Regions from separate parts of the Homo sapiens genome. Here region 2 is linked to region 1. Evidence: fine-mapped expression QTL. A gene starts in region 1. The other region holds a variant in brackets. All regions are shown on one strand. Distances are between the middles of the regions. Region 1 holds the start of NCAPG2 (non-SMC condensin II complex subunit G2). Region 2 has its middle 37 kb from the start of MIR5707.

Region 1 (5,374 bases):
CAGGGCTGTGACACAGTGTAACCCCCCTTTGGGGCTCTGTGGCTCCTGGCATCTGTGAGCTTTCGGGTGCCACCATGTTCCCCTTGTCCAGATGCTGATGCCTGCAGTGGAAGCCACTTGTGGTACCTCTGGTCCAGCCACAGCCTTGCATGGAGCCGGCAGCTGTGCAGGCACCTAGAGCTGCCTGCTCCACCACAGCAGCTGCATGGCTGGGTGTGCGCAGTGGTTGGACCCCATGCTCGCTTGCTCACATACCCCTTGCCGCTCTGCACCTGGCTCACCCTTGGCAGGCGTGGGATCTGGGTTGGTAGTGCAAGCCGAGTGCAACCTGCTGGGCTGAGTGGGCTCGAGCAAAACTCTAGCAGAGGCACCGCTGGCCACGGAGGTTTCTAGCTGGTGAAGCGATACCCAAAGGATCCTATGACATTAGTGGCTGCATGGGCAGGTGCATTGGGGGTGCACTGGGCGCTCCTGCTGCCCTGCTTCCACGTGCCTCTGAGCACTGCACTACATAGACATTTAGGCCTCATAACAACCCCCTAGAGGAGGCTGAGCTCTGCATTATACAGACATTTAGGCCTCATAACAACCCCCTAGAGGAGGCTCAGTACTTAAGTAGGTCCCATTTGATAGATGAGGAAACTGAGGCTCAGTCGTCCATGGCTTGTCAAAGGTCACCAGCTAGTGAGCACAGAACCAGGTTAGCCCAGGTGGTACAGCTTCAGAGCTCACATGCGTAACTTGTTACATTATTCCTACTCAGGAAGTGGAAACCCCAGGAACAGATGGCTGATTGGAGGAGGGACCAGCATAAGGAAAGGGGCAGGATTCAGGGGTGGGAGGGGAAGTCGATATCTGTTTTGGATGCATGTCAGCACCAGCGTGGGAGTAGGCAGTGAGCTGTTGAAAATTCTGGAGTTCAGAAATAACCGTGTCTTGCAAATCCAGATGCAGAGGTCACTGCTTGAAGGTGGCAGTTTGCACCTTGGATATGAAGGAAATTGCTAAGAAGAAAGCAGTGAGAAGATGAGGGCACCAAAATTCAAGAAATGGCAGGGAAGGATCTGTGTATGGAGGGAGGAGGAGGTCAGAGGTGGCTGGAGCCCCAGGATGAAATAGGCAATGTTAGATATCGGCCACCTGTTGACAAGGGTCCCAGACTCAGCATCCTCTGAGTGGGTCTTCTCCCTCCCCTCTGCAGCCTGCCTTGCTTCACTGTTGCAAGCTTCCTAGTAAACCAGTCTTCTCCCTGCTATAATTTTATATTGCTTGTTGAAACGATATTCCAACAAGTAACATAAATATTTTTGATATACTAGGCTAAATAAAACATATTTAAAAATTAATGTCACCTATTTATCTTCATTTTTCTAATGTGGTCACTAGAAATTTACAAGTGCACTTGTGGCTCCCATGATGTTCCTATTGGTTGGTGCTGTGCTCCCACAGTGCAACGACTTCAATCTCGCCAAGACCTCTGGCTTGAGTTAAGCCAGGAAAACAGATACCACTCTAGACATCTCAAGCATGAAAGAATATAGCTCCAGGGAAGGCCAAGTCCTCACGAAGGGATGCAGAGCTCGGTGGTAAAGAGCACCGTTTTCTAAGAATTTGCTTTCAACAAAAATTGGGAACGCCCAATCAAGTTATTCGCTGACACAAATTAAAAGAGATTGATACATCAGTATGTGATTTTGGCATTTAAGTCCAAAGAATTGAATGACATTGCTACTCCTCCTTCACACGGGTGCCTCCGAGGGTCCCCGCTAAGGCCTCTCCCTCTCCACCCTATGGGCAGCTGACCTGCCGGGGGCCTCACCTGCTGGAGGAGCAACTGCAGGAGAAGCACCTGTTAGGGGCCGCACCTGGCCGGAGGGGCTCCTGCGGGGGAAGCACCTGCCCAGGGTGCACCTACCGTGTGCAGGCTGCGGACCACCCGGACAGGTGCCCCCTCGGCAGGGAGGGCGGTCACGGGGGCCGGCCAGGTCGGGGTGGGGTCCTCCCGGGGATCCAGACACGGCCCTGTGGCCTCTCCCCGCCCCAAGCCTTTCCTTTCTCTCCCCCTCTCTCTCTTCCTCTCCTTCCTCCTTCCCACAACACCGCCCGCTCGCAGCGCCCCGCCCTCTCCTGGACCGCGCACTCCCTCCGCGGAGGCCCCAGGACGCGCACGAGCGCGCAGTGGACGTCGGCGCGCGGACCGGGCATGGGTTCCCCAGCTGTGGCGCCCCGCGTGCGCGTTCCGTAGTGCCCGGTAGGGCACTGGGCTTAGCTGCTCGAGGCCGCGCCCTAAGAGGCGGGGCATAGACAGGAAGAAGACTGGCGGGCATGTGGGCGGGGCATGATCTGGAGGCGGGGCGGGCCGGGCGTGTGGGCGAGGCCCGAGGCTCGCGGCGCCCCAGCTCTCGCGAGAGCGGCGCCTGATGACGACCGGGAGGGCGGGGCCCGTCTGGGGCGCCGGCGGGTGCGTTTGAATCTGGTCCGAGCGCGGGAAACGGCGGGTCCCCGAGCCCAGGTAAGAGCTGCGGTGCCGAGCCGGGATTGGGTTCAGAGCAGGGGCTGGGAAGTAGCAGGGATCGGGCGGGAAGCCCCTCCTCGGCTGGTCGGGGTCCCAGCCTCCCCTCCCCTAAGGAGGCGGCCGACCTGCGTGCGGGCAGTGCTGCCTCTGACGGAACTGGACGGAACTGGCGACCCCGGGCCATCCCCCCTACCCAGCTCAGCGACGCCCGTCCTTCTTGTCCGTGTCGGAGGAAAATCCCAGCCCCGGGCGCGGGCACTGCCCTCAGAGAGCGACCCCCCAGCCCTGAGCATGGGCACCGTCCTCAGAGAGTGTCCCCTCAGTCCTGGGCATGGGCACTGCCCTCAGAGAGCGACCTCCTCTGTCCTGGGCATGGGAACTGCCCTCAGAGAGTGTCCCCTCAGTCCTGGGCATGGGCACTACCCTCAGAGAGCGACCCCCTCAGTCCTGAGCATGGGCACTGCCCTCAGAGAGCGTCCCCTCAGTCCTGGGCATGGGCACTACCCTCAGAGAGCGACCCCCTCAGTCCTGAGCATGGGCACTGCCCTCAGAGAGCGACCCCCTCAGTCCTGGGCATGGGCACTGCCCTCAGAGAGCGTCCCCTCAGTCCTGGGCATGGGCACTACCCTCAGAGAGCGACCCCCTCAGTCCTGAGCATGGGCACTGCCCTCAGAGAGCGTCCCCTCAGTCCTGGGCATGGGCACTGCCCTCAGAGAGCGACCCCCTCTGTCCTGGGCATGGGAACTGCCCTCAGAGAGAGTCCCCTCAGTCCTGGGTGTCGGTACTGCCCTTAGAGAGAGTCCCCCTGAGCCCTGGGTGTAGGCACTGCCCTCAGAGAGTATCTCCCCAGCTGTGGACGTGGGCATTGTCCTCAGAGACATCAGTCTCCTGAACTCTTGTTGCTGGTTTGGTGCCTCTTGTTGTGTCCATGAGGAAGGAGTTTGGGGACGGAGTGGGAAGTCACAGGTGGTGAGAAGGTAACAGGGATTTCTTCTTTTTAATGCTCATCTTGATTTAGTACCAGACCTCCTGTGCGAAGAGTAACCTGCTCTTCGGACTGATAACTGGATGGTGAGATGACTCCTTACCTTGAAAGTAGCATTCTGGCTGCAGGGCTGAGGTCTTATGCACATATGGTACAAGAAACATGGAATATTGCCACTTTGGGAGATAGATTGAAAAATTAACCATTAAAAAATTACAGTCACTAATATAAGAGGGAAAATGGGAAATATAGGAATAAGTTTGGTAGTCTAGAGGAAGTGTATTACTGTAAGTTGGACTAACATGCCAAAGAGGTACACTTGGAAATAGAGCAAACAAGAAAAGTGACCAGAACTATGAAAAAGTGGAGAGTGTTCACAGACTTGCCGGGCGAAGATGTATGATTCCATGTGTTTGCTGCACCTTATTGGATTATTTTTCTAAAATCATGAATTTGTCCTAGCCACTATTCATTATGCTTGTTACTGGCCACTCTCCCTTCCCTCCCCATTTTCTTTGTCAGTGAAAAATGTGCCAGTCATGCTTGATTTAAAGAGGGAGACACGTTGTCGTTAGGCAATTTCATCATTGCATGAACATCACAGAGTGGACTTGCCTACACCTAGAGGTGTAGCCTACACACATAGGCTGTATGGTGTAGCCTACTGCTCCTAGAATGTTACTGTACTGAATACTGTAGGCAACTGTAATACAATGGCAAGTATTTGCATCGCTAAACATATCTAAGCATAGAAAAAGCACAGTAAAAATATGGCATTATAATCTTATGGGACCACGGTCATACATGTGGTCTGTTGTTGACTGAAATGTTATGTGGTCCATGACCGTAGTTCATAGTTCAGCCATTTGAGTTGAGGAATGAGATGACCAGACTTCACTGTTAACTTATTTCGGGAGTCATTAAACTGAGGTTATTTTTGCTTTGTTCAATTTGGACATTAAAATCTAGTATTATATGTTTAAGATGACTCTCTGTCCCCATAATTATTGGCAATAATTTTCCATATTGCTCTATTTATAATGGTGCAGGTGGTTTTCATTTATTTTTAAAGTGAGGGGGCTCCTACTGCAAATGTGTTCCATCATTTGCTATTACCTCATCTTTAGGTTGATGTTTTTTCAGTAGGGCACCAGTAGCACCAGGTATTGTGAATGCGAAATAGAATTTCCTGGAAAAACACAGGCAGGATGGAGGGTATACAAAGTCCCCTGAGCTCTCATTATCCCGAAGGGGTGGGAGGAGGGTGCTGTGGTTGAGCATGCCTAATGCATAGTCTAACAAGATCCCAGGTGACCCCCGGGGCCACTGTTTTCCATCTCACTTTGAATAACAAGATGACACTAACAGTGGGATTTTTTTGATGGAGGAATGGCCTTTAGAAAGGGAGCATCTTCAGAATCTGCAGCTGGGATCAGATTGTTCTTTTGTTGAATCAACTCAGCTCTGCCGAGCCAGCATCTTGCTAAGGTACTAAAAAGGGAGAGATGGTGGTGAGCTTCCTAAGGCTATTTGGATTTCTCCCTCCTTAGTTGGTAATTTTATTAACAATTGTTGATAAAATATCATTAATATCATGTTATTCACATCCCCAGTAAAGGAAATAAGTAAATTGTTTTTCAGATATTATAGCGTGTTTTATGTCAGAATGTTTTTAGAAACTGTCTGCCATACGTGGTTGAGGAATTTTCTTGCAGTTCTTGGATGTTAATATCAAATTAAATCTTACAGGAAAAGATATATTTGCAAGTGTTTCAGTATGATTGTGTTTTCCATTAGGGTTACAAAATAAATGCCATTTGAACAGTGCCATCTGTCATGGAAAAACGTGAGACGTTTGTACAAGCCGTGTCTAA
Region 2 (5,374 bases), 76 kb after region 1:
ACCAAGTAGCTCAGCCTAAAGGCAAACACTGTTACTCTGGTCTTTTCTTTCTGAGAGCTGTTCTGGTAGCAGTGGTGCTGACAGCCTCCTAGGCTGCCCTGACCTCTCGCCCACCTGGTGGATGCCAGTTGTTTCATGGCCCCATGCTCCTGGCCCTCTTAGTCAAAGATTCTGTGTCACGGTTGATCCTGTGGGCCCTTGTGGACCACCTCATAGTTGGTTGGAAATTAGTGCAGCTTAAATTTTGTGCTTGTTCTGTCCTCAGCCCCTGAGCAAAAAAGTAAAGAAATTCCAGTGTTTCTGTGCCTGTATTTCTCTGAGACGGTACAAGAAGTGGACTACTTACTGTAGTTATGAGCATTCAGGGTAAGGTTTTGCCAAGGGATCTGAGAAATGGAAGGTGGGGAGTGGAATAATATTACAGCTTAATTCAGATAATTTTGAAAATATGACTTTCTAGACATCCTGGCTGACTAAACCGTATTCTGAATTAGTGAGTGACATTGATAACGGAAATATAGTTCTATCAGATAGAGTCGTTTATTTGGAAGGGTTAGTGCAGATCTAAGACTGGCGACTTGAGTATGTGAGGGAGAGATTGCTGGTCTCTCCCCTGTTATTTATTCTCCTCTTTTTCCACAGAAATACTATCTCTGATTTTGTCTCTGGGTACGTGCCCCTCCTGAATAAAGACCACATTCACCAACATTGCTTGCACCTACATGTGGGCATGTGTCCAGGTGCTTCCAGTAAGATAATAGTGAAGTTGTCATGGGCACCTTACAAGTTATCTGTGTATCTTTACCTTTCTTACATTCTGCCTGGAATGGGGTTGTGATGGATGGAGCTCTCACTGCCATGTTGGACTGTGAGGATCTACAGTTTTGAGCTACATTCCTGAGCCGACATTGTTTAAGCCCCCAGTGTCTTTGGGAGAACTCAGTCTTGACAGTTGAAAGCCATAACTCAAAGCTAGTCTGAGGATGAATCCCTGTGATTGCCACCGGGCACTTGACATTTTAATTAGCACTTCTGCTCCCAGAATTCACCTGCAATGTTCCAACACCAATGTTACTTCTGCACCCAGTTAGAGGGGTAGGGAGAGGTTGGGAGCTGCCCTACCCCTGCTGTGGCACTCACTCCTCAGCCAAAGACTGGCAGAATCCTGGCCGCATGGCCGGGAAGGCAAGTACTCACCACTTTAAACATTTAAATATTCCCTGCATCAGGAGACATTCTTCACCACTCACCAAGACTCAAGGGGAGAGATCCCAGAACAAAAAAATAAATAGCTGTTGGGTGGCCAAAGACAGTAATAATTGTAATTTAAATTATTCTGATTTTCTAGATCAGTGGTTTTCAGGCTTTAATATGCATCAGAAACATCTAAAGTTTGTTACAACGGCTGCTGGGACCCGGCCCCACACTGTCACAGTCTTGAGGTTCATCCACACTGTGGTGGCTTAGCCATTCACCTATTGAGGGTTATTTGTTACAACGGCTGCTGGGACCTGGCCCCACACTGTCCAGTCTTGAGATTCATCCACATTGTGGTGGCTTAGCCATTCACCTATTGAGCGTCGTTTGTTACAACGGCTGCTGGGACCTGGCCCCACACTGCCACAGTCTTGAGGTTCATCCACACTGTGGTGGCTTAGCCATTCACCTATTGAGGGTCATTTGGCTGTTTATCCATTCACCTGTTGATGGTTGTTTGGCTATTTACCCACTCACCTATTGATTCCCCTTTGGCTGTTTATTGATGGTCCTTTGGCTATTGCAGATAAAGTTGCTAGGAACCTTCATGTATACAAGTCTGTGTGGGCTTGTTTCACTGGGTCAGTTTCTTGGAGTGGAAGTTCTGGTTAATATGTTAAGTCTACATTTAACTTTTAAACAAATCTCACAAACTGTTTTCCATAGTTGTTGTAACATTTTATATTCCTATCATCCTCCCTTACAATGGTTATTTTCAGTGTTTTTATCTTCATTCTGTTGGTTGTGTAGTGGTAACTCATGGTGTCTTTAATTTGTGTTGCCCGAGGACTGATGCTGCACACTTCACTTATGTATCTGTGTTGGTGAAATACCAGCTCAAGTCTCTCATCTGTTTTTGTTGTATTATTGCATTGTTTGTCTTGTTGCGTTTTAAGCCTTCTTTAGATGTTCTGGATACAAGTCTTTTATTAGGGTTGGGTATTACAGTATGTGGCTCCTATTTTTATTTTATTTTATTTTATATTTTATTTTTGAGACCGAGTCTCGCTCTGTCACCCAGGCTGGAGTGCAATGGTGCGATCTTGGCTCACTGCAACCTCTGCCTCCTGGGTTCATGCAGTCCTCCTGTCTCAGCCTCCCGAATAGCTGGGATTACAGGTGCATGTCACCATGCCTGGCTAATTTTGTGTGTGTGTGTATTTTTAGTAGAGATGGGGTTTCACCATGTTGGCCAGGCTAGTCTCAAACTCCTGACCTCTGTGCTGGGATTACAGGTGTGAGCCATCGCACCTGGCCCTATTTTAATTTTTTAAAATGGTGTCTTTCAAATAGGAAATTTTAATTTTGAAGAAGTCCTGTTTATCAATTATACTCTTGTAGTTTGTGCTTTTTGTGTTCTATATAAAAAGACATGTAAAAAACCATGTTTATTTGTTGTCCTGTATGAAATAACATGTTTTATTTTGGCTTGCATAGTTAACTGATGAGAATCTTTTTTTTTTTTTTTTTTGAGACAGAGTTTCGCTCTGTCACCCAGGCTGGAGTGCAGTGGC[G/A]CAATCTCGACTCACTGCAAGCTCCGCCTCCCGGGTTCACGCCATTCTCCTGCCTCAGCCTCCCGTGTAGCTGGGACTACAGGCGCGCGCCACCATGCCTGGCTAATTTTTGTATTTTTAGTAGAGACGGGGTTTCACCGTGTTAGCCAGGATGGTCTCGATCTCCTGACCTCGTGATCCGCCCGTCTCGGCCTCCCAAAGTGCTGGGATTACAGGCGTGAGCCACTGCGCCCGGCCGAGAATCTTGCTGTTATTTCTACATTGGTGTCTGTGGCTGCTTTTATTATCTCCTTATCGAAACCTAAAAGCTCTGCTCTTGTGTTTAGGTCTGTGATCCATTTTGAATTAATGTTTATGTATGGTATGAGGTAAGGATTTATTTATTTCTTTATGCCATATGGATATCTAGTAGTCCCTGCACCATTAGAAGGTAATATTTTTATCAAGGAACTCCATGACACATCTCTGGACCTGCCCTTCATCTAGACCAGCAGGGCTCAGCTGGGCATGAGTTTGCCCCTCTTTCCGTCAGTGGCACAGGTGTCTTGGTGGGCTGGGTTGCCACAAAATGCCTCAGGTAGGAGGCACGGGACAGCCCTTGCAACAAAGAGTCATTCCAGCCCAGTGGTCAATGGTGTGATGTTGAGAAGCTCTGCTGTGTAAGTGTATGTTTGAGCTGTTATGATTAGGTGTGTAATCCATTTTAAGTTAATCTTGGATGTGGAGTCCAAGTTCAGTTTGTTGTTTTTGGTTTTTCCCCATATGATTATCCCGTTGTTCCTGCACCCTTTCCTCCTCCATGAAATCACCTTGCATCTTCGTCAAGATGCAGTTGGCTATACCTGTGTGGGCTCTTTCTGGAGTCTTTTCTGTGCACTGAGCTATGGCCATCCTTACGCCAATTCCCAGGGTCCTTTTTATTTGAGCCGTACCTGTGTCTTAAAATTGTGAATTGCAAGTCCCCAATTGGCTTTCTGTTTTTTGATGTGGTTTTGGCTTTTCTAGCTCCTTTGCCTTTTCATATACATTGTAGAATCAATTTGTCAATTTCTACAGACGAAAACATGCAGTACAATTCTGATTGTGATTACACTAAATTTACAGATCAAGCTGGGGATTAACTCGCAAAAAGAGTCCGGCCACTTATGGAAAGAAGGCAAAATAATAAGTTATGATGAGAAAGAGTGATATTCCTTTATTATTTGTGCAGGCAAGGGGAAGAGCAGTTCCACTCTTCAGTTTGTGGAGGGAACGCAGGGTTTTACAGAAAGGGTTTGGAATGCGGAAGAGGCAAGGGGGACTAAGAGGTGCCAGGTGGCGTGACTTGCTTCAGTGGCCCTTCTTGAATTATTGTCCCATTTGGTGAAGGGGCCGGCACCATTGTGCATCCTACCAGGTTATAAATTAATCACAGTCAATCTTGTAGTCACTCTTCAGCCAGGAGAGGGTTCTGGCCTTGAAATAATCTTTTGTTGGAAAGAGAATTCCGGAGTTGCCTAGTCCCTTTTAGGACCCGACCCCTGAAGCTTCTAAGCAAATAAATGGCCAGATAAGAGAGCATGGTGTGTGCTTAACTAGTATCTGGGTAAATACATGTGCATAAAGCATGGGAGCATACAGTGGGAAAAGAAAGAAGAGTGGAGGGCCCGGGTTCGGTGGCTCACGACTGTAATCCCAGCACTTCGGGAGGCTGAGGTGGGTGGATTGCCTGAGGTCAGGAGTTCCAGACCAGCCTGGCCAACATGGTGAAACCCCATCTCTACTAAAAATACAAAAAATTAGCCAGGCGTGGTGGCACACGCCTGTAATCCCAGCTACTTGGGAGTCTGAGGCAGGAGAATCACTGGAACCCAGGGGGTGGTGGTTGCAGTGAGCGGAGATTGCACCACTGTACTCCAGCCTGGGCGACAGAGCGAGACTGTTTCCAAAAATAAAAATGAAAGGGAGTGGAGGTTCGCAGCACATTCCAAGGCTGTATTTCGAGATGAAAGGTAACACATATGCAGTTTGTCTCAAAGTTTTATCTTGAGACTGGGAAGGGGAAGAGGAAAAGGAAAAGAAAAAACAGTTTGAAACACAGTTTGAGGCTAGGCTGCTAGGCTGCTAAGCTCTTCGGGCAGAGGGAGAATTGACACTCAACAGTGTTGAGTCGTCTGATCCATGACCATTGTCTAGTTTTTCAGACATTTAATTTCTCCCAATATTTTGTCATTTTCATGATATAGGTCTTCCATATGTTTTATTAAATTTATCCCTACGTATTTTGTGTTTTATAGAGCTGTTGTAAATGGTAGTATTTTTAAATTTTCAACTTCTAATTGTTTATACTGGAATAGAGGAAGGCAGTTTCTTTTTGTATGTTGACTTTGTATTCTACTTTTCTAAGCTCATTGATGACTTGTGGTAGTTTATTTATAGGCTCTGTCATATTTTCTACTCAGACGATCAGGTTATCTAAAAATAAATGCCATTTACATCTTCCTTTCCAGTCTGGATGCTTTTATTGCTTTTCCTTTTTGTGCCGGTGAGAACCTCCAGTAAAATGTAGCCTGGAAGTGGTGTGAGCAGGCACTCTCGCCTTGTTCTGGTCTCCACAGCACAGC

What was found. PIP is the estimated chance that this variant, and not a neighbour inherited with it, causes the effect.
Region 2: its variant is fine-mapped to the expression of NCAPG2 in lung (TOPMed, PIP 0.92).

What each region holds. Positions count from the first base shown.
Region 1 is chr7:158,701,862-158,707,235 of GRCh38, reverse strand. It overlaps NCAPG2 (non-SMC condensin II complex subunit G2), which reads left to right and starts at 2,432. Exons shown (of 28, transcript NM_017760.7): 1 at 2,432-2,512; 2 at 5,298-5,374. The coding sequence starts at 5,337. RefSeq lists silencers at 1,776-2,055, 2,176-2,265, 2,416-2,515 and an enhancer at 3,093-3,671.
Region 2 is chr7:158,625,489-158,630,862 of GRCh38, reverse strand. No RefSeq gene overlaps it. Among named protein-coding and RNA genes, the nearest start is that of MIR5707, 37 kb to the right of the region's middle. The variant G/A (reference allele first, on the strand shown) is at 2,772.